Linked DNA regions of Homo sapiens. The protein of the gene in region 2 purifies or fractionates together with the protein of the main gene of each other region. This does not show direct contact. Each region holds a gene or a part of one and is shown on either strand. Other genes may lie near its edges.

Evidence for each region.
Region 1: the proteins of SPR (region 2) and LACTB2 fractionate together in Homo sapiens (co-fractionation; one large-scale study listed by BioGRID). This does not show direct contact.
Region 3: the proteins of SPR (region 2) and QDPR fractionate together in Homo sapiens (co-fractionation; one large-scale study listed by BioGRID). This does not show direct contact.
Region 4: the proteins of SPR (region 2) and TAGLN2 fractionate together in Homo sapiens (co-fractionation; one large-scale study listed by BioGRID). This does not show direct contact.
Region 5: the proteins of SPR (region 2) and CLIC4 fractionate together in Homo sapiens (co-fractionation; one large-scale study listed by BioGRID). This does not show direct contact.
Region 6: the proteins of SPR (region 2) and GRHPR fractionate together in Homo sapiens (co-fractionation; one large-scale study listed by BioGRID). This does not show direct contact.
Region 7: the proteins of SPR (region 2) and POLDIP2 fractionate together in Homo sapiens (co-fractionation; one large-scale study listed by BioGRID). This does not show direct contact.

The regions. Positions count from the first base shown.
Region 1 is NC_000008.11:70,652,186-70,655,685, reverse strand, and holds part of LACTB2 (endoribonuclease LACTB2), read left to right. Parts: intron 1-2,933; exon of another isoform or gene 2,934-3,175; intron 3,176-3,500.
Region 2 is NC_000002.12:72,886,077-72,890,207, forward strand, and holds the start of SPR (sepiapterin reductase), read left to right. Parts: upstream 1-1,331; 5' UTR 1,332-1,356; coding exon 1,357-1,660; intron 1,661-2,237; coding exon 2,238-2,528; intron 2,529-4,131. UniProt on the Homo sapiens protein: Catalyzes the final one or two reductions in tetra-hydrobiopterin biosynthesis to form 5,6,7,8-tetrahydrobiopterin.
Region 3 is NC_000004.12:17,502,091-17,505,590, forward strand, and holds part of QDPR (dihydropteridine reductase), read right to left. Parts: intron 2,386-3,500; coding exon 2,289-2,385; intron 1-2,288. UniProt on the Homo sapiens protein: Catalyzes the conversion of quinonoid dihydrobiopterin into tetrahydrobiopterin.
Region 4 is NC_000001.11:159,917,611-159,920,059, reverse strand, and holds the end of TAGLN2 (transgelin-2), read left to right. Parts: intron 1-224; coding exon 225-399; intron 400-683; coding exon 684-786; intron 787-1,118; coding exon 1,119-1,260; 3' UTR 1,261-1,949; downstream 1,950-2,449.
Region 5 is NC_000001.11:24,748,447-24,751,946, forward strand, and holds part of CLIC4 (chloride intracellular channel protein 4), read left to right. Parts: intron 1-3,500. UniProt on the Homo sapiens protein: In the soluble state, catalyzes glutaredoxin-like thiol disulfide exchange reactions with reduced glutathione as electron donor. Can insert into membranes and form voltage-dependent multi-ion conductive channels.
Region 6 is NC_000009.12:37,421,520-37,425,550, reverse strand, and holds the start of GRHPR (glyoxylate reductase/hydroxypyruvate reductase), read right to left. Parts: upstream 2,801-4,031; coding exon 2,718-2,800; intron 707-2,717; coding exon 576-706; intron 1-575. UniProt on the Homo sapiens protein: Enzyme with hydroxy-pyruvate reductase, glyoxylate reductase and D-glycerate dehydrogenase enzymatic activities. Reduces hydroxypyruvate to D-glycerate, glyoxylate to glycolate, oxidizes D-glycerate to hydroxypyruvate.
Region 7 is NC_000017.11:28,347,528-28,351,027, reverse strand, and holds part of POLDIP2 (polymerase delta-interacting protein 2), read left to right. Parts: intron 1-235; coding exon 236-262; intron 263-464; coding exon 465-590; intron 591-1,529; exon of another isoform or gene 1,530-1,865; coding exon 1,866-1,945; exon of another isoform or gene 1,946-1,995; intron 1,996-2,698; exon of another isoform or gene 2,699-2,796; coding exon 2,797-2,911; 3' UTR 2,912-3,500. UniProt on the Homo sapiens protein: Involved in DNA damage tolerance by regulating translesion synthesis (TLS) of templates carrying DNA damage lesions such as 8oxoG and abasic sites.

The DNA.
Region 1 (3,500 bases), on a different chromosome or scaffold from region 2:
TATACAAAAAAGATATTTGCATACACATGTTCATAGCAGCACAGTTTGCAATTGCAAAATCATGGAACCAACTCAAATGCCCATCCATCAACGAGTGGATAAAGAAACTGTGGTATATATATATGATGGAATACTACTCAGCCATAAAAAGGAATGAATTACGGGGCCAGGCATGGTGGCTCACACCTGTAATCCCAGCACTTTGGGAGGCCAAGGCAGGTGGATCACCTGAGGTCAGGAGTTTGAGACCAGCCTGGCCAACATGATGAAACCCTGTCTCTACTAAAAAAATACAAAAATTAGCCGGGCATGGTGGTGCATGCCTGTAATCCCAGCTACTTGGGAGGCTGAGGTAGGAGAATTGCTTGAATCTGGGAGGCAGAGGTTGCAGTGAGCCGAAATTGTGCCACTGCACTCCAGCCTGGGCAACAAGAGTGAAACTCCCTCTCAAAAAAAAAAAAAAAATAGGAATTAATTAACGGCATTTGTAGTGACCTGGTTGAGATTGGAGACTATTATTCTAAATGAAGTAACTCAGGAATGGAAAACCAAACATTGTTTGTTCTCACTGATATGTGGAACCTAAGCTATGAGGATGCAAAGGCATAAGAACAATACAATGGACTTTGGGGACTTGGGGGGAAGGGTGGGAGGGAGATGAGGGATAAAAGACTACAAATAGGGTACAGTGTATATTGCTCGGGCGACGAGTGCACCAAAATCTCACAGATCACCACTAAAGGACTTATGTAACCAGATACCACCTGTACCCCAATAACTTATGGAAAAAATATATTTGTCAGCTGAGCACAGTGGCACATGCCTGTAGTCCCAGCCACACAAGAGGCTGAGGCAGGAGGATCACTTAAGTCCAGGAGTTCTTGGCTGTAGTGTACTATGCCAATTGCATGTCCATGTTAAATTCAGCGTCAGTATGGTGACCGCTCAGACCTTAGGAGCTGGGGACCACCAGGTTGCCTAAGGAGAGGTGAACTGGCCCAGATCGGAAACAGAGCAGGTCAGAACTCCCATGCTGATCAGTACTGGGATGGAGCCTGTAAATAGCCACTGTACTCCAGCCTGGGCCACAAAGTAGAAACCCATCTCTAAAAAAAAAATAGGTAAATACACACAGACACACACACACATATTTGTCAGTGCTATCCCTTCTTCACATCCACTACCAGTACTTCCTCCTTTATCTTACTGTCTCCAGCTCTCCCCTTTAGCCTACCATCCTTCATTGTGCTACTTGAAATCTTTAATGACTCTCGCTGCATACAAGATAATGTTTATTCTCTTTACCATACCACAGTCTGACCCCAGGCCACTTTTCTGGTCTTAGTTCCCACTCCCCTCACAAAAACACTTAGCCATATACAAATATTCCTGGGCATATTATGCCTGTTTATGTTTTTGTTTATATCACCCCTTTCCACTACTTGTCTCCCTGGTAAATTCTTATCTATTTATTCTTCAAAGCCCAGTTCACATGTTACTTATATCAAGAACGCTTTCTGGGCAAAATTAACTGCTCTTCTCCAGCTTTTGTATAAATTTTATTCTATAATAGCACTTACTAAGTTGTATTGTGGTTTTGTGGAGGGGGGTAAGTGTCTCCTTAAAAAGCAGTCAGCTCCTTAAGTTCACAATATTAGTTAATGCCAGTTGCCATAGCAAAACAACTCAGAAATGTTTAACGGCTCAAATAGGAAATAAATTTATTTCTTGGTCCCATACAGTCCCAAAAAGGTTCCCAGTTAGCCAGTGGCCCTCTGCAAGTAATGATGTATGCTCCTTCCATCTTGTGACTCTACCCTCCTGAAGGCTTTTTTTTTCAAGGTTGCATGCTCAGCTCGATCAATCCAGCAGGTAGAAAAGAGCATGGAAGGGATATTGCATGGGAGGTTTTCATGGACCAAGTCTTCTGTTGCATTGGCTGTCAATTCAGTCATAAGTCACCCCTCACTGTAGGGTGTCTGGGAAATTAACTGTATGCCCAGCAAAATAGAGGAAATGGGTTTAGTAACTAGATAGCCATTCTCTGATATAGGCAGATACCAGATTCATCCTCACATCCTCACCTCTAGCACACAGAAGGCACTGAATATTTATCTTACATATAGTTAATATCTTTAAAGAGGCAAATAGACAAACAGATGAGTAAGAGAAAATGAAGTAGTAGATGTCCATGTCCTCTTTTAAATTGGTGCCCCCTTTTTTCTACTGTGCTGTGATTTTCAAAATGTAGTTTCTAGGCAGTTTCCTTATAATGCTTTTGTTGAAAATATAGCCAGGTGCGGTGGCTCACACCTGTAATCCCAGTACTTTGGGAGGCCAAGGCAGGCGGTTTGAGACTAGCCTGGGTAACATGGTGAAACCCCATCTCTACCAAAAATACAAAAAAAATAGCCAGGCATGGTGGTGTGTGCCTATGGTCCCAGCTACTTGGGAGGCTGAGGTGAGAGGATTGTTTGAGCCTGTGAGGGCAGAGGTTGCAGTGAACTGGGATAGTGCCACTACACTCCAGCCTGGTGACAGAGCAAGACTCTGCAAGAAAATAGTAAGAAAGAGCAAGAAAATATAATAGCATGTTATATAATTCGCCCATGACACCAAAGGAAAACAAATGTTATATTACTACTTGCTCAAAAAGTATTCTTCACAATACTGAAATTTCCTCCATAGCACACCAGCCCTAGACCAAGTTAATGAAAGGGGTAGAGATGGTTTATTGAATCTTCTGTCTCGAAGATTTGGGAATCACAGTACTGGTTTATCACATAGAATCATGGGTAATCATTAGAGCTATACCTAATTTACCAGATTAAAGATATGCAGCTGTTGGATGTTAACTGCCATCCAGGTGGAACAGGTCATTTTTTTAAAACTTCTTATCAAAGTATAATATATAAACAGGAAAGATCACATACCATAAATGTACAAAGTCATGAATTTTCACAAATTGAACAAGGCCCATAAGCAGCATTCAGATGAAGAAACGGAACAGTATCAGTGTCCCAGAAATCTCCCTTGTGCTTGCTTCCCCTTCAGTTGAGTACTGTCTTGGATTCCTGGAGTGAATTGATGCCAAGGATTTCAAATATATGAATTCTATTTAATTTTTGTTTTACTGTACTCTGATGGGAATCTGTGTAAAGATTTAAGGGGAAAACTGACAAAAAGAATCAAAAACAGACACATTTTAAAAATGACTAGTAGTAAATAATCTTTTCTCAAAATATAAATTCTCATTAAGCTAAAGCCTGGATAAAACATTTAATTTCCTGATGAATGTGGTTTTCAATTTCCACTTTTATGAAGTCAGAAAAGCCCAACTGTTTTCAATATTAACATGTAATATTTTAAGCAAAACCTTTGTTAAGCTAGCTAGTGAAAAGACATTTGACAGAGTTCAACTCTATATAAATAACAGCACTTAAGAGTTTTGTTCAGTGAAAGTTGCATAAATAGAAGGTTAAAATCTGCCTCAGTCCTCA
Region 2 (4,131 bases):
TGAATAGGTAAGTGAAAAGCAGGGCAACTTCAAATGGTATACACATATACAGAGTCTTATCAGCGTTAAAATACCAAAAGCTTAAAAAACAATTAGCCAGGCGTGGTGGTGCGCACCTGTAATCCTAGCTACTCAGGAGCCTGAGGTGGAAGGATTGCTTGAGCCCAAGAATTCAAGGCTGCAGTAAACTGTGATCACACCTCTGCACTTCAGTTTGGGCCACAGAGCGAGACTCTGTCAAAAAAAAGAAAAAAGAAAAGAAAAAAGCCTTCCTCCAAGTTGTTTCTTCCTTAGAGTTGGCAATAATAGTGGAAAGGCGGTAACTTTGCTGTTTAGCCCCAGGGGAGGGATCAGCCCTGTGGGGAATTGGGCTAAGTTATCAGAGGTTACTTACTGCCCTTGCTAAACTCTAAAGAGATTCGTTTTTTAAAAACTGACACACAATATTTGGACATATGTATATACACAATGGAATACCACTCGGCCACTAAGAAGGAAACCATGAAGAGATTCCTTTTTAATATATGTAGCTGCATGCCAACTTGTCTCACGTTCCTCCTCTCCTAGAAAAAAAAAAATGTGGATTTTTCTGAAGCACCTGCCTGGAGGTACAGACAGATGATTGCGCAAACTTGAAGCTGAAAGTGGATGGAATTGCTGCCAGGGAGACTGTAGCATGAGCAGGAGCAGAATCCTGGGGAACACACTTTTAGGGACAGGAGTCAGAAATCTCAGAGAAGCAGGGGTTACTGGTGGGATCACGGAGCTGCTCAGGGCCTAGTAAAAGGGAAAGGTTTTAATATCATTTGGAGCCACTGTGGTTCTCCCAGAGGAAGCTCCTGTCATCCAGAGAGCGGTGAGCTCCCAAACAAGCAGAGACTTCAATTCCTAAACAGGCATAAGCTTCATTCAGGGTGTTCACTGGCCACGACCAGGGACGCCCAGCACCCAGTGCAGGGCCTGCCCTGGAAGAGGTCAGTAGTGCAAAGTTAGGGCTGGAACTGGGAGGAAATTCGAGCATGCGTCCCAGCCGGAGGCTGAGCTTGCGGGCGAAGAACACGGCAGCGCTGGGAACCGGGCTAGGGCTTTCCGTGTGGGCCGCGCCTGCCGGCCCTCTCTGTTGTCCCACTTGGCACGGACTGGGCTACCGCCACGGTTTGACTTCCGCCACCAGCAACCAAGGGAACCAGATCCCAAGGGAACCAGCACCCCTGGGCGCTCGCGGCCCGAAGCCTGAGGTTCCCGCCCCGCCCCGGCAGGGCGGCCCCGCCGACACCCGTAGCGGTCCCGCCCCCCGCGGCCGCACCGCCTCCTGCCTGGTCTCGGGTGCCAGCGCCGCCGGCGGAGAACAGGAGCATGGAGGGCGGGCTGGGGCGTGCTGTGTGCTTGCTGACCGGGGCCTCCCGCGGCTTCGGCCGGACGCTGGCCCCGCTCCTGGCCTCGCTGCTGTCGCCCGGCTCCGTGCTTGTCCTTAGCGCCCGCAACGACGAGGCACTGCGCCAGCTGGAGGCCGAGCTGGGCGCCGAGCGGTCTGGCCTGCGCGTGGTGCGGGTGCCCGCCGACCTGGGCGCCGAGGCCGGCTTGCAGCAGCTGCTCGGCGCCCTGCGCGAGCTCCCCCGGCCCAAGGGGCTGCAGCGACTGCTGCTTATCAACAACGCGGGTAAGACCCCGGGGCTGGAGCGGACTCCCCATGTGAGCGCCCACTTCCTCCACCGCTGGGGAATTTAAGGGCTACTCCTAGGGGTCAGATAGGACGCCTAGAAATCTAAAGCCCTAGTTGTTCCAGCTTGAGTAGCAAGTGGAGGCGAGGTGTACAGGAAGACTCGGTGCCGTCGGGACAACAGTCTGCCCCCACTTCCTGGAAAATTGGCCAGCCGGGTTTTCCAAAGCGCCTGTAGAACTTTCCCGAGCCCCTTGCTCTGCGCCCTCTGGCGGAGGCCTGAGTCAGGGCTTGGAGTCTCCAAACAAGTAAACTCTCTGCTTCTCCAAAGGACCGCTAGAGCTTTCCTTCAGCCCCACGGCAAGGCAGGTGCCTTCTCATTCTGCAGCTTGGGATGGCTAGGTTCCCCAGCTGTGTCTTTCCGCAGAGCTGGGGAAGAGAGAAGCCTCTTCAGAAGCGCTAGGCAGCTTCCTCCTCTAGGTCTGCATGGGAAGAGGATATCTGGAGGAACTTGGGAGGGCTGGGGAAGAAGAAAGCCCCGCCTGCACTGAGTTACTCCTAAGGGTTGGTTTTTCAGGCTCTCTTGGGGATGTGTCCAAAGGCTTCGTGGACCTGAGTGACTCCACTCAAGTGAACAACTACTGGGCACTGAACTTGACCTCCATGCTCTGCCTGACTTCCAGCGTCCTGAAGGCCTTCCCGGACAGTCCTGGCCTCAACAGAACCGTGGTTAACATCTCGTCCCTCTGTGCCCTGCAACCTTTCAAAGGCTGGGCGCTGTACTGTGCAGGAAAGGCTGCTCGTGATATGCTGTTCCAGGTCCTGGCGCTGGAGGAACCTAATGTGAGGGTGCTGAACTATGCCCCAGGTAGGTGGGAAGTCCTGCCGTCCCTGTCCTCCAGAACCCACTGGTGCGCCTCTGGGGGCTGGGCAAGCGGCCTAGTCCGCCCCCTCCAGGAAACAACCCACAGGATTTTGTCCTTGAATCTTGACCCATCACCCCTTAGGGGAAATACAGACCCAGGGGAAATAGAGGTGGCAGGGGCCGGGGATACTGGTAGAGAGTGAGGAGTTTCCTGGACTGGAGGGTGGGGCAGGAAGGTCTGAGGTATTAGATGGAGTTTGGGAGAAGACTGGGGTTTGAGTTCCAGGCCTTCCTCATGTGAAATGGGGAAGACGCTCCCTGCCTCACAGGGCACTTGGGAAGACTGAATGAGATACTGTATGTGAAAATGACCCTGACCTGTGAAGTGTTGCCTCATTGTTAAATAGGACTGACCACACTGTATTGTCTGCATATGTTTGCTTGCCTCCTTCCCTCCCTTGACAGGAAAGCCTTTGCACTATGCAGATGTGTGTTCCTAACACCTAGCAAAGCACTACACTAAGGCAAGCTGCAGGACATGCTAGCTGTATGGAGAGCAGACAGACTTTGTTGAGTGCTGACCATCCCTGGCTGAACTGTGCTGGAACACTATTGAGGATTCTGGGATAAATAGAATAGATCCCTTGCTCTCATGAACGCCAAAGGACAGGGAGTCTTGTGATACTGGGTCTAGTTTCTGATGCCACAGCGCCCCTGTCTTAATAGTGAGGAGTCTCTTTTAGGCTTGAGGTTGCTGCAATCAGAAGGTGGTGACAGAGCAGCCATGGAAAGCCTGAGCAACTTGGGCAGAAATCCAGTAGCCTGTGTCCCTGGGGAATAGGGTCAGGCTCCCAGGGCAGACAGGTAGAATGGCCTGCACAAAGCACAGATGTGGCAGGGCTGGATCCCACCTTGCTTTCAAGTTCTTCCTCATGTTCTCCAGTACCCCAGCCCCTACCACCCCTGCCCCCCAACACACATGCACAATTATTCTCACAACCAACATTCAACTCATCATCCACTCTGAATTCAGCCCAAGGATTCGCACAAACAACAGTGACCAAATGTAAGCTACAACCAGGAGCAGAGCAGACTCCAGAAGTCCACATGGCTGCGTTTGGTCTCAGGAGGCTGCCCTGGGCATTATGAGGGAGCTGAGATTTTCAGGAGGTCCCCAGGGCCTGAACCAAGGCAGAGGCCAGTCTGGTTTTCATTTCGGTCTCAGGAAGAATGTTCTAACAGGTGCTCAGAGATGGAATGGGCTGTTTGGAAAGGCAGCAAGTCCTCTCTCAGCAGGGATGCACAGGTCATTGGAAAATAGTCAAGGACCAGGAGATAAATTCTCCCTCCAACCCTGGAATTCTCTGATGTTCTGCCCTCGAGGACCATTAACTGCAAATATTGGGGTGCATGAGTGATTCCTATGTGAAGAATAGAACGTGCTTGCAACAGTTCAAGAAGGGAACAATTCCTTTAGGTGGGGAGACTAGAGATGGCTTTATTGGAGGTAGCTGAACTGGACATTGACCTTGGTTGTTGGCAGATGGAAGGCATTCCTGATGAAAGGAAATAAAGGTGCGAAGGCTCACTGTGGGCGTGGCAGGTC
Region 3 (3,500 bases), on a different chromosome or scaffold from region 2:
TGGCCAATAAATTTTACAAAATAAACCTGGAGTTTACTGATTTGCTGGACTGGCTTTAATTCAAAGATTGTTTTATTTTATGAATGGTATCAGATTTGTAATAAGAACCTATATGTCTACGTCAGGTTTTCTCTGTGATAAAAATCCAAGGGCCTATTACTGTACAGCTATAAAGAGAGCTTTTACTGAGCTACATATTTTATGTCTGAAAGTTTAATGTTAGCTTTAAAGACTCTTCAAAAGAAAGCTAAAATAACAACCATTTTACACTTGTTTTAACTCCCCGGCCTTGCCAGAGACATAAGGAAGAACAAATGGTAACATATGTCACACCACCAACTGGGCAACTCGAAGGGCATGTGGTACCTGGTGATCAAAAAAGGATGTCCTCCTGATATAGGAGGGGTTGGTAGGTGATAAACAAGAAATTGCATTTCCCCACTAAAAAAGACTAGGAAAAAAACCTGATGGATCCACATTTATCATTTCTTGCTCCCAAAACATACAAAAAGGTTATCAAGCTGTTTTGCTAACCTGATCACCTCACAAAGCACCACTCTCACATTGACATGTGGGTCACAGAATGTCAACGTCTTTTTAAATGGCTTTGGCTAATAAATGTAGAAGGGATGACAGAATTAGAAAACTACCATTTTCCAACCCCTGAATAAGTGCTTCAGGCAGAGATTATCAACGAAGGACTAAAACCACTGGGTGAAAAGTATAATACTTGGGAAACAGGACATTCACACACAATACCACAATACCACACATCCCACAGATGACTGACTTACTGCAAACAGAAAAAAAGTACCTTTATAATGGAAGTCTGGCAGTTGCCATCTCAACCAAGCATCAAATTTGGCATCCCTAAGGGTAGGGCAAGCTGCCATGCTGAGCTTCCCAGGTGATGTCATATAAGGTACACACCATCACTCAGGAAGAATTCGCACCACAAGAATGTTTATGCTAAATCTAACTGAGTCTCTAGACCCAAATTCCAGTTCACGGGGAATACCAAGGATAGAGGAACAAGTCAAACAACCCCTTAAAGAAAAGTTCAGACAAGTTCAGAATGTGAGACATGCTATATGAAAACTCCCAAGGACTTGACAAAAAGTCTTATCACAGGGGATTTTTTTAAAAATTCTAGATTTTCTAGATTAAGAGACTAAAAACAACATAATGCAGTACATAAACCTTGAGTGGAATATGTTTAGGGAAAAAGAACTATAATAGACATGGAATAAACTGGGGAAATTTGAATATGGGCTCAATATCATTAATCTTAGATAATCACTGTTAACTTTCTTAGGTACAATGGTACCATAATAATGTAGGACGGGCTTATTCTTTGGAGAAACACGCGGAAATATAGTGAGGTGTAAACTTATTTTCAAACAGTTAACAAAAAACAATGCACAAAGTACACAGGCACAAGAAAACAAGCTCAACTCAAGTACAGCAAATGTTAACAGTTACTGAATCTAGATGGAGCATATAAGGGTGTTCATTGAACTGTTCTTTCAACTTTTCTGGTATGCTTAGAAATGTTCATAATGAAAAGTTGAAAAATGGGCCAGGCGCACTGGCTCACGCCCGTAACCCCAGCACTTTGGGAGGCTGAAGGGGGTGGATCACCTGAGGTCAGGAGTTCAAGACCAGCCTGGGCAACATGGTGAAACCCCGTCTCTACTAAAAATACAAAAAATTAGCTGGGCTTGGTGGTGGGCACCTGTAATATCAGCTACTCGGGAGGCTGAGGCAGGAGAATCGCTTGAACCTGGGAGGCAGAGGTTGCAGTGAGCCGAGATTACACCATTGCACTCCAGCCTGGTGACAGAGCAAGACTCTGTCTTAAGAAAAAGGGTAGGGGAGTAGAGGGGAGGGGAGGGAAGGGAAGGGAAAAGAAAAGATGAAAAAAGGAATCAGCTTTAGTAAAATCTCAAGTTTGACTTCTTCTGACTTTCTAAATGATCTCTGCACTTCCTACACATCCTCCAATGCCTGAATAGCACATGGCCTGGGGCACAGGCCATGCTGATTTCATTCTGCCTCTACTTTAAACTCAAACTCAATGCCCCCCGTCCCCTCACGTCCTCCAGGGGAAGCTTCTTCTTTATCCGTAAAATGGATTAAGAGCATTAATCACTCTCTCCCCGAGCAACTGTAAAGATTCCGGGATATACACAAAAAAACAGCTGGCCTGTCACCTAGTGCAAACCCAATCCTTGTCAGCTGGAAAAAGAGCAGAGCAGAACAAATGAGTGACTCAGGAAAGGACTCACACTTGGATTTGGCATTGCCCCCGGCCCATCCTCCAGCAACGCAAAGAATTGCATCCACCTTCTCTTCACCCAAGAGCTTTCCAACCTCAGCAGTCACCTTCAACACAAGAACAAAAAAATGTATAAACTGTAAGGTAAGCCAACACAGGCTAGCATCTTTACGGATACTCAGTTTCTTTTTCTCTTCTTTTTAAGCCAGTTTACAGTACCTGGCAATTAATGCTTTGAGAATTAGACGGAAGACTAAGCTCTGATGAGCATTTTAGACATTGAAGCCCAAGTACACTTCAGTGTGATTTTTAAAAAACAATCTAGAGTCTCTGTGTATACATTCTGAAAGGTAGAGACATGAGCATCCCTTGAAATACAACAATTAATAAATAAAAGTAGGGAAAGGTTAAAAAAAAAAGAAAAAAGCACCTAGAGCTTCACTGCCTGCACATAGTTAACATCCTGGTGTATTTCTTTCCAGACTCTCTTCACAAATCACAGAATTATAATCCAAAAAGAAGATCAACCCTGTTTTCCCCACCCCAATCCAAAAATCCCTTTAACTGCAACTCTGAAAAAAATGCCAACGAAAAATTGTAAGAAAAATCATGAGCCAAGAAAAAATACAGTCAATAGCAATATGTTGGTAATATTAAGTACATGGGGGTTCACTTTAATGATCTCTCTGCTTCTGTTTGTTTGAGATTTTAAAGCATTGAAAATATATGTATGCCCTCTTGTTATAATTTATGAAAAGAACAGTCTGTCAGGACAGGCAATTCTGGCCATCCACCACGACTCTTCCGTATTTCTCTGGAATGGCTGAGATGACAAATCCCAATTGCTTCATTAAGATCAATCTTCTTAAGATTTCTTTTTTTTTTTTTTTTTTTTTTGAGATGGAGTTTCGCTTGTCTCCCAGGCTGGAGTGCGATGGCGCCATCTCGGCTCACTGCAACCTCCACCTCCCCGGTTCAAGCGAATCTCCTGCCTCAGCTTCCTGAGTAGCCGGGATTACAGGCGCCTGCCACCACACCTAGCTAATTTTTGTATTTTTAGTAGAGATGGGGTTTCGCCATGTTGGCCAGGCTTGTCTCGAACTCCTGACCTCAGGTGATTCGCCTGCCTCGGCCTCTCAGAGTGCTGGGACAACAGGACTGAGCTACCACGCCTGGCCCAATCTTCTTAAGATTTAAATCAGGCTGGGCACAGTGGCTCATG
Region 4 (2,449 bases), on a different chromosome or scaffold from region 2:
GTATATTAGCAAGGAAAGACTAAACACTGGCTTTTCACTCTGGGCTCGGAGGAAGGAGGCTGGCAAGAAGGACTGTGAGGCTTACTCTAGTGAAAGAGTCCAAGCTGTCTTCAGGCAAGACAGGAGCCTCTCTGGTTCATTGTCTCTGGTTCTGAGGGTGGTGCACGCTGAGCTGCGATAGGTAGGCATATTCTCACCTTTCCACCCCTGCTGTCCTCATCCAGGTGCTATGTGAGCTCATTAATGCACTGTACCCCGAGGGGCAGGCCCCAGTAAAGAAGATCCAGGCCTCCACCATGGCCTTCAAGCAGATGGAGCAGATCTCTCAGTTCCTGCAAGCAGCTGAGCGCTATGGCATTAACACCACTGACATCTTCCAAACTGTGGACCTCTGGGAAGGTGGGACAGGGCGAGGGGCTGGGTCCTGTCATCCAGGAGGCCAGAGATTGGGCTGGGCCCTCTTGACCAGGCAGAAGGGGCTGTTTTCTGGCTCCCTGCAGAGAAAGAGGGGTGTGTTTGTGTTCCATGGAGCACTTGGTCATATTGGAGGCTGGAATGGAGAAGGGTATGGAAATGAACAGTAGAAATAATTAGGAAGCCAGGCCTGCTGACTTAGCGATAGAGGCGGAACCCTGGTATCTAGGACACTGCGGAGGCTGACACATTCCCATTCTCCTTCCCAGGAAAGAACATGGCCTGTGTGCAGCGGACGCTGATGAATCTGGGTGGGCTGGCAGTAGCCCGAGATGATGGGCTCTTCTCTGGGGATCCCAACTGGTTCCCTAAGTAAGTATTGCTGGGACAGCCGCAGGGTCCAGCAGGTGCATTGTTTCTGCCCAATCCTGTCCCTAGGAAATAACTTATCTCAGTAGCAGCTGGCCCTTTACAAAGCACTTTCAGAAAATTCCTCATCTCACTTAATCCTCACAACACCCTCTGGGATGGCAAATGACTGTCCCTTTGGACAGATGAGGAGGTGGCTTCAGAGAGCTTATGGCTCTCGAGGGCAGAGCTGGCACCAGCCCTTGAGCCAACAGCAAAGCCTGTGCTCTGTCCAAGGAAGGGATTTACTAGGGCAGCCTGTGATCTCCTCTAACCACCACTCCCTTGTCACCCAGGAAATCCAAGGAGAATCCTCGGAACTTCTCGGATAACCAGCTGCAAGAGGGCAAGAACGTGATCGGGTTACAGATGGGCACCAACCGCGGGGCGTCTCAGGCAGGCATGACTGGCTACGGGATGCCACGCCAGATCCTCTGATCCCACCCCAGGCCTTGCCCCTGCCCTCCCACGAATGGTTAATATATATGTAGATATATATTTTAGCAGTGACATTCCCAGAGAGCCCCAGAGCTCTCAAGCTCCTTTCTGTCAGGGTGGGGGGTTCAGCCTGTCCTGTCACCTCTGAGGTGCCTGCTGGCATCCTCTCCCCCATGCTTACTAATACATTCCCTTCCCCATAGCCATCAAAACTGGACCAACTGGCCTCTTCCTTTCCCCTGGGACCAAAATTTAGGGGCCTCAGTCCCTCACCGCCATGCCCTGGCCTATTCTGTCTCTCCTTCTTCCCCCTGGCCTGTTCTGTCTCTGAGCTCTGTGTCCTCCGTTCATTCCATGGCTGGGAGTCACTGATGCTGCCTCTGCCTTCTGATGCTGGACTGGCCTTGCTTCTACAAGTATGCTTCTCCCACAGCTGTGGCTGCAGGAACTTAATTTATAGGGAGGAGCCTGTGGCAGCTGCTGCCCCAGCCACAGCTGCACTGACTGTGCTCACCACACATCTGGGGCAGCCTTCCCTGGCAGGGGCCCTCGTGGCTTCTCATTTTCCATTCCCTTCACTGTGGCTAAGGGGTGGGGTGAGGGGATGGAGAGGGAGGGCTGCCTACCATGGTCTGGGGCTTGAGGAAGATGAGTTTGTTGATTTAAATAAAGAATTTGTCATTTTTGAATGGACTCTGGCTGTGTCTGGGGCCACTGTGCCACTGTGGGGAAGGGAGGAATACTGGGCAAAGTGCAGTGAGTGATACAGGAAGGAGGGCAGAGATGAGAGGTTGCAGTGCTAACCCCTGTCTTGAGTTTCCTCCCCATCCTCATTCTCACTTGCTTTGGGGGGTGGTGTAGGTTGGAATTGAGAGGGGACAGGACCTCACAGCTGAATGCAGACTATGTAGGCAGTGTCCACAGGGAAGTAAGGCCCTTTCTAGTCAATGGAATTGGCTAATCCTGCCTGCTGCCTTTGGCTGGGTCTGCCTCTACAGTTGGAACAGCTTCTCAGTCACTGAGAGGGTGGGGCTGGCTGCTGGCACAGCCATCAGTCCTGGCAAGTGAAGCTGTCTCCAGGTGAGAGGTCCCTCAGGCGGGCTTGGGGTGAGGTGGTCTGTGTTGGAGTGGTGAGGGTGGGGGTTGCAGTGGTGAGGAAACGTGGAGAGCTGGGGAATGAGCAGGAGTG
Region 5 (3,500 bases), on a different chromosome or scaffold from region 2:
ACCCAGTGATTCAACATAGGCAAACTTTGCACTGATACAGATCAGGTTTTTTGTTTTTTTTTTTTTTTTTTTTTTTAATGAGATGGTGTCTCGCTCTGTCACCCTGGCTGCTGGAGTGCAGTGGCGCGATCTCGGCTCACTGCACCCTCTGCCTCCCAGGTTGAAGTGATTCTTCTGCCTTTGCCTTCCGAGGAGCGCATGCACCACTACGCCTGGCTGATTTTTGTATTTTAGAAGAGACTGGGTTTTACCATGTTGGCCAGGCTGGTCTCAAACTCCTGACCTTAAGTGATCTGCCTGCCTTGGCCTCCCAAAGTGCTGGGATTACAGGCTTGAGCCTCTGTGCTTGGCCCCTAGACCAGTTTGTTTGAAAGGGGAAAAAAGGACAGGTAAAATGTGGTAAAGGGCATTCTTGATCTCTTCTCAAAACCTACGTGTGGGAAATGCAAATGGGGGAAATACCCTTGTAAATATAGTTATTTTGAAAGCAGTGGACCAGGTGTGGTGGCACACTCCTGTAATCCCAGCCTTTTGGGAGGCGGAGGGGGGTGGATCACTTGATGTTGAGACCAGCCTGGGCAACATGGCGAAACCGCATTTCTACTAAAAATACAAAAATTAGCCACGCATAGTGGTGCATGGCTGTAATCCCAGCTACTCGGGAGACTGAGGCAGGAGAATTGCTTGAACCTGGGAGGCGGTGGTTGCAGTGAGCCGAGATAGTGCCACTGCACCCCAGCCTGGGTGACAGAGCAAGACTCCATCTCAAAAAATAAAAATTAAAAAAAAAAAAAAGAAAGTAGAGAGGGTGCAGAGGCTGTGGTTGTCCAGAGTGGTATGTTGAACAGTGTTAACCTGCCAAGAGGTATCTGAGTTTGTAAAAGAAAACTATTTACAGTTGAAGCACATAGCATGTATGGAAATTAGAAATTTGGTGGTGGCGCTAGGGGAAAGGCCAAGAGATGTAATGGGGCTTTGAGCCTACCTGTCTAGCTAGCACTGAGCTTCACATTTAAGAGAGAGAGATGAGCACCTTCTCAAATAGTATGACTGAACTCACAGCTGCATTTCCTTCCTTGTGAGTAGTTTTTGGAGTTGTCTGCCTGTGAGCCCATTAACTCCCTGTCATCTATATAACAGCAGGATGGTTTTTTTGGTTTGTTTTTGTTTTGTTTTACCCTCAACATCTGGAGGATAGATAGGATGCCCTCTCAAAAGTAAAAAAGGCAGCTGGGCTGTGGTGGCTCACGCCTGTAATCCTAGCACTGTAGGAGGCCAAGGAGGATGAATCTTTTGAGCGCAGGAGTTCTAGACCAGCCTGGGCAACATGGCGAGACCCTGTCTCTACAAAAACTATTAAAAAAATTGCCAGGCACAGTGGCTCACGCCTGTAATCCCAGTACTTTGGGAGGCTGAGGCAGGCGGATCTCTTGAGCCTAGGAGTTCGAGACCAGCCTGGGCAACGTAGCAAAACCCCATCTCTACAAAAAATATAAAAAATTAGCTGGGTGTGGTGATACATGCCTGTGGTCCCAGCTGAGGTGGGAGGATTCCTTTAGCCTGGGAGGCAGAGGTTGGCTGTGAGCCGTGATCGTGCCACTGCACTCCAGCTTGGGTGAGACCCTATCTCTAAATAAATAAGTAAGTAACTAAGCTGGGCCTGGTGGCCCACGCCTGCAGCCCTAGCCCTAGAGGCTGCGGGTGGGAGGATTGTTTGAGCCCAGGAGTTCGAGGCTGCAGTGAGCTTATGATCATGTACCTGCACTCCAATCTGGGTGACAGAACAAGACCCTGTCTCGGGAGGAAAACAACAAAGGCTTATAATGGCAATCATCCTCAACAGTGGAGATGCTCTCTACCCCACTCAGGAGCCTGGTAGGTGTATATATTTCCAGCTGGGAACCACCAACAGATACGGTATATTTGAGACCTTTTAGCAAGGGCATAAGGTCCCTTGTAATCTGGGTTTCTTTCTTTCTTTCTTTCTTTCTTTTTTTTTTTTTTTTTAAGACGGAGTTTCGCTCTTGTTACCCCTCAGCCTCCCGAGTGGCTGGGACTACAGGTGTGCACCACCACACCTGGCTAATTTTGTATTTTTAGTAGAGACAAGGTTTCTCCATGTTGGTCAGGCTTGTCTCGAACTCCTGACCTCAGGTGATCAGCCTGCCTTGGCCTCCAAAAGTGCTGGGATTACAGGCGTGAGCCACCGAGCCTGGCCTACTGCCTGAGTTTCTAATCCAATATGTCCAGTTACTAATTGTGTATCCCAGGATACATCACTTAAACCTGTCTGTGCCACATCTGCACAGTTGGGATATTAGTAGAACAGTCCTATGGGATAAATTAATATATGTAGTATGCAACAATCTTAGAACAATGTCTAGTACACAGTAAGCAAATAAATGCTAGTTGTGTATAATTTTGTATGAATATATATTTATAGGCAGATCTCCCCTACTAGATAGACAGTAAATTCCTTGAGGATAGGGTGTGCATATGGTTCAGAGTGCCTGCAACTTAAGAGGATGCCAAATGTTTGAAATGAGATTGTGCCCTTCTTTCAGAGAATTCTGTTGTTGAGCATTTTGTTGTCAATGTATGTCTCTACCATGCTTTGGAATTAGAAACCACTTACTGAGATCCCGATGGTTGGAGCATCAAAGCATGGTTCTTCATCCTGATTTCTCTAGCCTCCAGTCTCCAAACCCAGTGTAATTTTATGTACTCACCTCTTTTTTTTCTCCATTTAATACTTCCAGTCTTTTTTTTTTTTTTTTTTTTGAGATGGAGTCTTGCACTGTTACCCGGGCTGGAGTGCAGTGGCACGATCTTGGCTCACTGCAACCTCTGTCTCCCGAGTTCAAGCGATTCTCCTGCCGCAGACTCCCGAGTAGCTGGGGTTACAGGCACCCGCCACCATGGCCAGCTAATTTTTTGTATTTTTAGTAGAGATGAGGAGCTAATTTGTATTTGTAGTAGAGACGGGGTTTCACTATGTTGGCCAGGCTGGTCTTGAACTCCTGACCTAGTGATCCACCCGCTCGGCCTCCCAAAGTGCTGGGATTACAGGCGTGAGCCACCGTGCCAGTCTTTTATATATTTACTAGTGTTTCTTCTTGGCTATGTCCAGAATTTGGGGAACCAAGATTTTTGTTTGGGTAAAACTAAATATTAACTCTTGAACCACAAATGAGAGTAATAGAGATGGGGTTTCTCCATCCAGCTTGGCCAACATGGCGAAACCCCGTCTCTACTAAAAATACAAAAATTAGCCGGTCGTGGTGGCGGGCGCCTGTAATCCCGGCTACTCGGGAGTCTGAGGCAGGAGAATCACTTGAACCCGGGAAGCGGAGATTGCAGTGAGCCGAGATTGTGCCATTGCACTCCAGCCTGAGGGACAAGAGCAAGACTCTGTCTCAAAAACAATCAAATCAAAAAACAGAAAGTAATCCCTTTGCGGAGTTCAGTTTTATGGGCTGGAATTTAAACTTGTTGTTGTG
Region 6 (4,031 bases), on a different chromosome or scaffold from region 2:
CCTCTCCTGCAAGCAGGACACCACAAAGCTTCCAGGCCAAGGCCAGGATGTGGGGCGGCTCAGCACTGACTCACAAGGGTCCCTTCCCATCTGGCAGCCTCTGAGTCTGAACCTTTTCTCAAAACTGTCACAACAGCCTCACAGGGGGAGGTTTATTCTTCCATGGGCTGAGACCCGTGGCTGCGGTTGAGGAAAGACATCCTGCTGGGGCTTGGCACTGAGCTAGGTCCTCCCTCATACTACGCACACGCCCAGAAGGGGCAGGGTCTTGCTGGAGGTCACAGAGCAAGGTTGTGGCAGGGCTGGAGAACCCAGGGCCTTGGATGCACTTCCCCACACCCACAGTCTCCACACCGCGGTCTTTGCCCTCCTAGGGTCCCCCGCCAAGGGGTTCACAGCAGGAGGGAGGGGCAGTGCCTGTGCCAGAGCAAGCTATCTGCCCGCTCGGGCCTGGTATCGCAGGAAACGCCCTCAGAACCCAGACAGCACTGCAGAGCAGCCAGGAGCCAGCAGCACAGGCTGAGGGGCCCACAGGGCCAAGCCACCCTCAAGTCCCCTGCCCACCCAGTGTGCACCTGCAGCATCCAGGATCCTCTTGTCCACGTGGTCGGAGAGGAGGCAGAGCAGGCCGTGGGCCCCCGCCACACCTCGCTCTAGCTCCTTGGCAGGGATGGGCTCATCCGAGTCCCACTGCTCCACCTCACAGCTGCGGGGAAAGGGAGGCCCTCAGGAGAAGCAGGAGCCGCACACCTGTCCCCGCCCCTCCCAGCTGGGAATCCTGGCCTCTGATGGCCCTGGCCTCAGGCTGCCCGGGGCTGGCTGAGGGGAGGCAGGGTCAGGCAGGGGTGGTCTCAGAACTGTCCCGAGACAGCAGGTGACAGGTGAAGGGCTGAGGGGCCCCCCAGCAGAGCCTAAGCTGCAAGGGGGAAGGCATGGGGACAGCTCTCAGGTCAGCACAGAGAAGAGCTTTCCCACATTCACAGGGGCTGGGCGGCCAAGCAGGCGGCCAACTGCAGGGAAGGCCCGTGGGGGGCAGGGTGTGCCTCAGGTGGGGGGCCTGGATTCAATGGCCTGTTGCATCTCTTCCTGTCCGTGGAGTCCATGAAATAGAAAACTCTCATAGTTGGACTGGGCCAGGAAAGATAAGGTCAAGGCCACCCAACGCTTCCACGGCAGCTCACAGCAACCAGATATTTGTCCCAGTGATGCACGGTGCCTCCTGGCCCTTGCCATGGAATTCAGTACAGTCAGCACGTGTGGAGCCTCTATGTGGCAGGACACAGGATAGCTACTTGCACCTCCTGACTGAGCCCAGGGCACTGACCACCTTTCATCCACCTCCCCATGAGCAGGGTACAGCGTGAGCTACTGTTACCATGGGCGCGGTTGCTGCCTTCCACCTTCTCCTGCTCAGTACAAAGTGGGTCCTTGGCAAAGGTTTTGTTGCAGTGAACAAAATTTGAAAATCTCATATGCCCCTAGAACTGGCTGCTGAGGCTGGATTGCATCCTCTTCCTATCTAACATTGGAAACACAAACCTGATCAAATGCAGTGATCAGACAGCAGTCAGACACTTCTGAGTACAAGCCCCAGCTCCTCCACCTGGGAGCTGCATGGCTTTGGGAAGAAACTTAACCCTAAGTCCAGCCTCCAGTTTTTAATCTGTGCAATGGGAATTATAATACTGACTTCACAGTGCTACCAGGATTAAAAGTTTATGTATATGAAGCACCTGGCAAGGTTGGCCCACAAAAAGGGTTCCATTTAGCAAGGGTGGGCCAGGTGCAGTGGTTCATGCCTGTAATCCCAGCACTTTGGGAGGCTGAGGTGGGAGGATCCCTTCGTACAGGAGTTCAGGACCAGCCTGGGCAACACAGTGAGACCCTCGTCTTTGAAAAAAATAAAAAATTAGCCAGGCATGGTAGTGCATGCCTGTAGTAGTCCCAGCTACTTGGGAGGCTGAGGTGGAAGTATCTCTTGAGTCCAGGAGGTTGAGGCTGCAGTGAGGTATAATGGTGCCACTGCACTCCAGCCTGGATGAGAGTGAGACCCTGTCTTAAAAATTAAAGGGTCCTCAGGCCAGTCATGGTGACTAACACCTGTAATCCCAACACTTTGGGAGGCTGAGGCAAGAGGATTGCTTGAGCCCAGGAATTTGAGACCAGCCTGAGCAACAGAGTGAGACCCCCATCTCTACAAAAAAAAAATCAGAAAATTAGCCGGTAGTGATTGTTTGCGCCTGTAGTCCCAGCTACTCGGGAGGCTCAGGTGGGAGAACTGATTGGGCCCAAGAAGTCGAGGCTGCAGTAAGCCACGATCGATCGAGCCACTGCACTCCAGCCTGTGCAGCAGAGTGAGACTGTCTCAAAAAAAAAAAAAAAAAGATAAGTAAATATAAAGAAGAAGAGTCATCAAAGCCCCCTGCCAAACGTCCAAGGGCCTGGTCAGTGACCGCCATGTCCCTGACCCCACATGTCCTGTGGGAGCGTGGAGAATTAGCCTGGACCTTGCCTCAGGGGCAATCTCCCCTCTCCAAAGCCGGAACTGCAGGTCCCAGCGTCGTCTTAAGAGGAGAACTGGGCCCCAGAGAACTTTCTCCGAGACTCCCCAAAACTCCAAGCCTGCCCCAGCCGGCCACAAGGCCCAAACGCCCCGCCCGGCTCTCCGGTCCCTGGGACCGCCCTGCTCCCTCCTCCACGGCGCGCGAGGCTCTTACTCTGCCGCCCGGGCGAGCGCGACCCTACCCTCGGCGGGTATCCTGCGGGTGACGAACACCTTCATGAGTCGCACCGGTCTCATCCGCAGTGCAGCCGCCGACCCGGACCTGGCAGTACAGAAGCTGGCCCGGGAATGTAGCTGGGCCGGGGCGGGGCCAGGCTGGAGTGGGCGGGAGAGACGTCGCGCGCGGCGTGCGCAGGGGGTGTGGCTTCGCGAGAGGGAGCGCCGGGTTGCGGCTGAGCGGTGACTGTGCGTGCTCGGGGAGTGACAGTAACAGTGACCCTACACAGTGTCCTTGTGTGTGTGTGGGGGGGTGCGCCTCGTGCCACTGGGGAATCAGGGCCCCGGGGGAGAGGGGGCAGTATCCCGTCCAAGGCCTCATGGGAGCCCTGCTTTTTCTACACGCTCAGGGTCCTGTTTCCACAGGCTCAGGCCTTAAGAGACTGAAAGCCCCCACTTTTTCTGTCTCTTGGGTTGGCCCAGGGTAGAAACCCAGGTTCCAGGCTGTGAGGAAGTCCAGGACACACAGAGAGGTCACGTGTAGGTGTTCAGGCCAACAGCACAGCCAGGGGCCCGGCTCACAGCCACCGTCAATGACCAGAGGTATGAGTGAGGAAGCCTTCGGGTGACTCCAGGCCAACTCCCACCTGACTACAGCTAAAACTGCAAGAAAGAGCCTTTAGGAGAATCACTGGCTGAGCCCAGTCAACCCCGGAACCATAAGAGATGATAATGCACTGACTGCTGTTGCTCTAAGCCGTTCAATTTTGGAGTAATTCTTTATGCAGCAATAAATAAGTGATACGCTATGTGTGCGAAAGCCAGAAGCCATAAGAGTACAACTAATTCTCCATTGAAAAATTAACCGTACCATCCTGAATGCATCTGATCTTGGAAACTAAGCCTGGTTAGGGCTTGTATGGGAGACTGCCTGGAAATACCAGGTGCCTGGAAATACCAGGCTTATGTTTATCTTAAAAAAAAAAAATTAACAAAATCATAAGACAACAAACCGGGAAAAATACCATATATTTGCAACTCATTTTATAGACAAGGGGTTGATTTACTTATTGCACAAATAGTTCCTAAGACAAAGATGCCCAGCTTATCTGAATAAGCAAAGGATATCAATGGACAGTTTATAGAAAAGAAAATGGCCTTTAAATGTATGGCTGGGCGCGGTGGCTCATGCCTGTAATCCCAGCACTTTCGGAGGCCGAGGCAGGCGGATCACTTGAGGTCAGAAGTTTGAGACCAGCCTGGCCAACATGGTGAAACTCTGTCTGTACTGAATATACAAACATTAGGTGGG
Region 7 (3,500 bases), on a different chromosome or scaffold from region 2:
CTCTGTTGGTGATCTTGAAGGGATGAGGAGTGGGGAGGCCAGGAGTGGATACAGGGATGTTGCCTCCCTGTGGGTGTGTAGGCCATGGTTCAGCTATCACCCTTATCCCACAGATACTCTCAGCTTGGTCTGTCTGCAACCTTCCTGGAATACATCAACTGCACTGGAGAGATGTTGATTGGAACACACTTGGTCTTGCCCTGTGGGACTTAAATTCTTTTTGTTTTCTCCCTAGGAAGCCCAGAATTCCCACGTGTACTGGGTGAGTGTCACTGTCTGGGAGAAGGGGAGCTTGTGGGGTGTGCCTGGGGGTCAGGGTGGAGGTGGGGGAGCCCACCTTCTGACGAGAGCGGAACCTGTGCAGTGCATGTGTCAGCTTTGTTGACTTTTGCTTTGCACAGAATTCTGAGGAGGGTTACCCAAATTTTATTTTTTTTAAACTCTCTCTCCCACACCCACCTCAGTGGCGCTACTGTATCCGTTTGGAGAACCTTGACAGTGATGTGGTACAGCTCCGGGAGCGGCACTGGAGGATATTCAGTCTCTCTGGCACCTTGGAGACAGTGCGAGGCCGAGGGGTAGTGGGCAGGGTGAGCATCCTTGGTCTAGTAATTCTGGTCCTGTGTGGCAAGCCTGGGGGCTTAGCGCATGGCTTCCTTCTCCTTTGTTGTTATAGACAGAGGCTCACTTTGTGAATACATTGTGTTGTTTTGGGTTAGAAATCTTAAAACAACTACATGAGATATGTTTCTTGAAACCCATTTCATAGATGAAAAGAGTGAGACTGAGAAGTTAAATAACCAGCCCATGGTCCCATAGCTAGTAGTGGCAGGGCCTCAATTTAAACCCAAGTGAGTCTGAAGTCAAAACTTGTGTAGTTTTTAAAACTGGTATAGTGTCTTTTAAAAACTAAAATTTGAATGTCGTTAGGTGGGGCACACACCCCCACCAATCCCTGTGGTCTTGCCTCTTTGCCCCTTTACATGTTTACATCCTCTGCTGGTCCTTGAAGAGATCTGATTTTATAATCCCTGCCTACCCAACCCTGTCTCCTGAGAAATAAAGTCACAAGCAGTACTGGTGTCAGGGGCCACATTCAACAAGCATTTATCAAAGTCAGCGAGGACTGGGGAGGCAGTTGGGCAAGTGAATAAGAACAAGGCTTTGGATTTAGGTAGTCACTTCAAATTCCAGCTGAGTTATATATTAGCATAACTTTCGGCAAGTTATTTAACCAAAATCTTAGTTCCTTACTCCTAAAATGTGGATCACACCAGTTATCTTATGATCATTAGGAGAATTAAAGCAGCAGAGGTTTGCAGAGTACCTGCCGTGGTCCCCGCCAGCATGTGTGAATGGACACTGGAGGGGATATCTCCACAGGAGGTCCTTTGTTTTTAGAGACAGGGTCTCGCTGTGTCACCCAGGCTGGAGTGCAGTGGTGCGACCATAGTTTACTTTTCTGGGCTCAAGCAATCCTCCGCCTCAGCTTTCTGAGTAGCAGGACTACAGGCACACACCACTATGCCTGGTTAGTTTAAATTTTTTTTTTTTTTTTTTTTTTTTTTGTGGAGATGGGGTCTCACTGTGTTCCCCGGGCTGCAGAGGAGGTCCTTTGCCCAGTGCCTTCGGACATTCAGTCTGAGATTATCTTTCCCAGAGCCAGCATAAAAGGCCCAGCCAAATGGCCATCTATGGGAGGAGGTACTGGCAGGAAGTGTATCATGCTATGGGAGTGCCTGCTGTGGTGGTGGCTGGGTAGGGGACATCCAGTCTTGATGAACTGGCAGTCAGCATGTAACCCTGGGGTGCAGGAAACATGTCCCTGGGGCTTGGCCTGACCCATTTTGCCTAAACCTTTACAGGAACCAGTGTTATCCAAGGAGCAGCCTGCGTTCCAGTATAGCAGCCACGTCTCGCTGCAGGCTTCCAGTGGGCACATGTGGTGAGTGAGTGTGCACAGCAGTAGGGGCCACCCAGCTCCACAAACAGAAGCTGTAGGTCAGAAAAGTGAGAGCTTAGAGCTTGCCATTAACTCTGGGCCAAGTTACATTCTTAGAGGGAGCCTTATCTGCTATATTGTTGTGTGGGACTTGTCTGATTTTCTATTACCGCCTGTTTCCCAGTACCCTGTGATTTGTGGACTGAGGACTTAGGCTAAAGAGGTCTGGTGATTTGATGCTGCAGAATTGCTTGTATAGTTGGGTTTTTTCCCTTGGTGTTTCACTCCTTTACCTGAAAATGCAGTTGGCTAGCTTATGCAGTATGTATCTAAAGGCCAGAATCTGGACAGCTGTGTTTTCCTTTTTTCTTTTGTGAGATGGAGTTTCACTTATTGCCCAGGCTGGAGTGCAATGGCACAATCTTGGCTCACTGCAACCTCCGCCTCCCAGGTTCAAGCCATTCTCTTGCCTCAGCCTCCCGAGTAGCTGGGATTACAGGCATGCGCCACCACGCCCGGCTAATTTTGTATTTTTAGTGGAGACGGGGTTTCTCCATGTTGGTCAGGCTGGTCTCAAACTCCCCACCTCAGGTGACCTCAGGTGATCTGCTGGCATCAGCCTCCCAAAATGCTGGGATTTCAGGCGTGAGCCACTGCAGCTGTGTTTTTCTTTTCATGGATAACCATGAGGGGCTCTTGGGTCTCTGGACCAGTCATCCTGTCATGAGCTAGAGATAGAAGAGAGCTCAGGCTCACATGTCCTCTGTGGCTGGCAGCTGAGGGCATGGGGCCATCCAGATCCTTAGGAGGCCTCAGCCCTGGCTCCTTCTAAACCAGCTTCTTTCTGACTGTAGGGGCACGTTCCGCTTTGAAAGACCTGATGGCTCCCACTTTGATGTTCGGATTCCTCCCTTCTCCCTGGAAAGCAATAAAGATGAGAAGACACCACCCTCAGGCCTTCACTGGTAGGCCAGCTGAGGCCCCAAGTGCCCAGGCTTGGTCACCGGGAAGAACAACTCTCATCCCACAATTGCTGCAGAACTCTTCTCTCCCCATCATGGGCCACAGTGGGTCTCTTAATTTGATTGTGGGGTTCTTTTTGTGGGGAGGGGTGGTATAACTTTTCTTCAGAAGACCCATGTGGGACACCTCCAAGGCTGGCCTCCTCATAAGCCCTGCCTACACCATGTTCCAGTAAACCTCTCCACCAAGGAACTGTGTTCAGCTGCCACAGGCCTGGAGGAGTTTCCTGGCCTGTCACGTGAGGTTTGATCAGTAAACCAGTGCACGCTTGGCCACCCTTGCCATTTCTGCTCCCAGAGTCTCAGGCTCCCCTTCTGACCCAGTGTGCGCCCTTGACTGCTTTCTTTGCTGCCCTTCCAGGGAGCTGCCCCCCTGGTAGGGCATGTGCCTGTTTCCCTCTCAGCCTGGAGGCTGGCTGGACATCTCCTAGGGTCACTGTGCCTCTCAGCTAGTTGGCGGGGGTGCTGGACTGGACTCTTGTTCACTTTACCTTCTGCCAAATGCAGAGAGGGAGGCCAGTGTCAGGGTCGGAGTG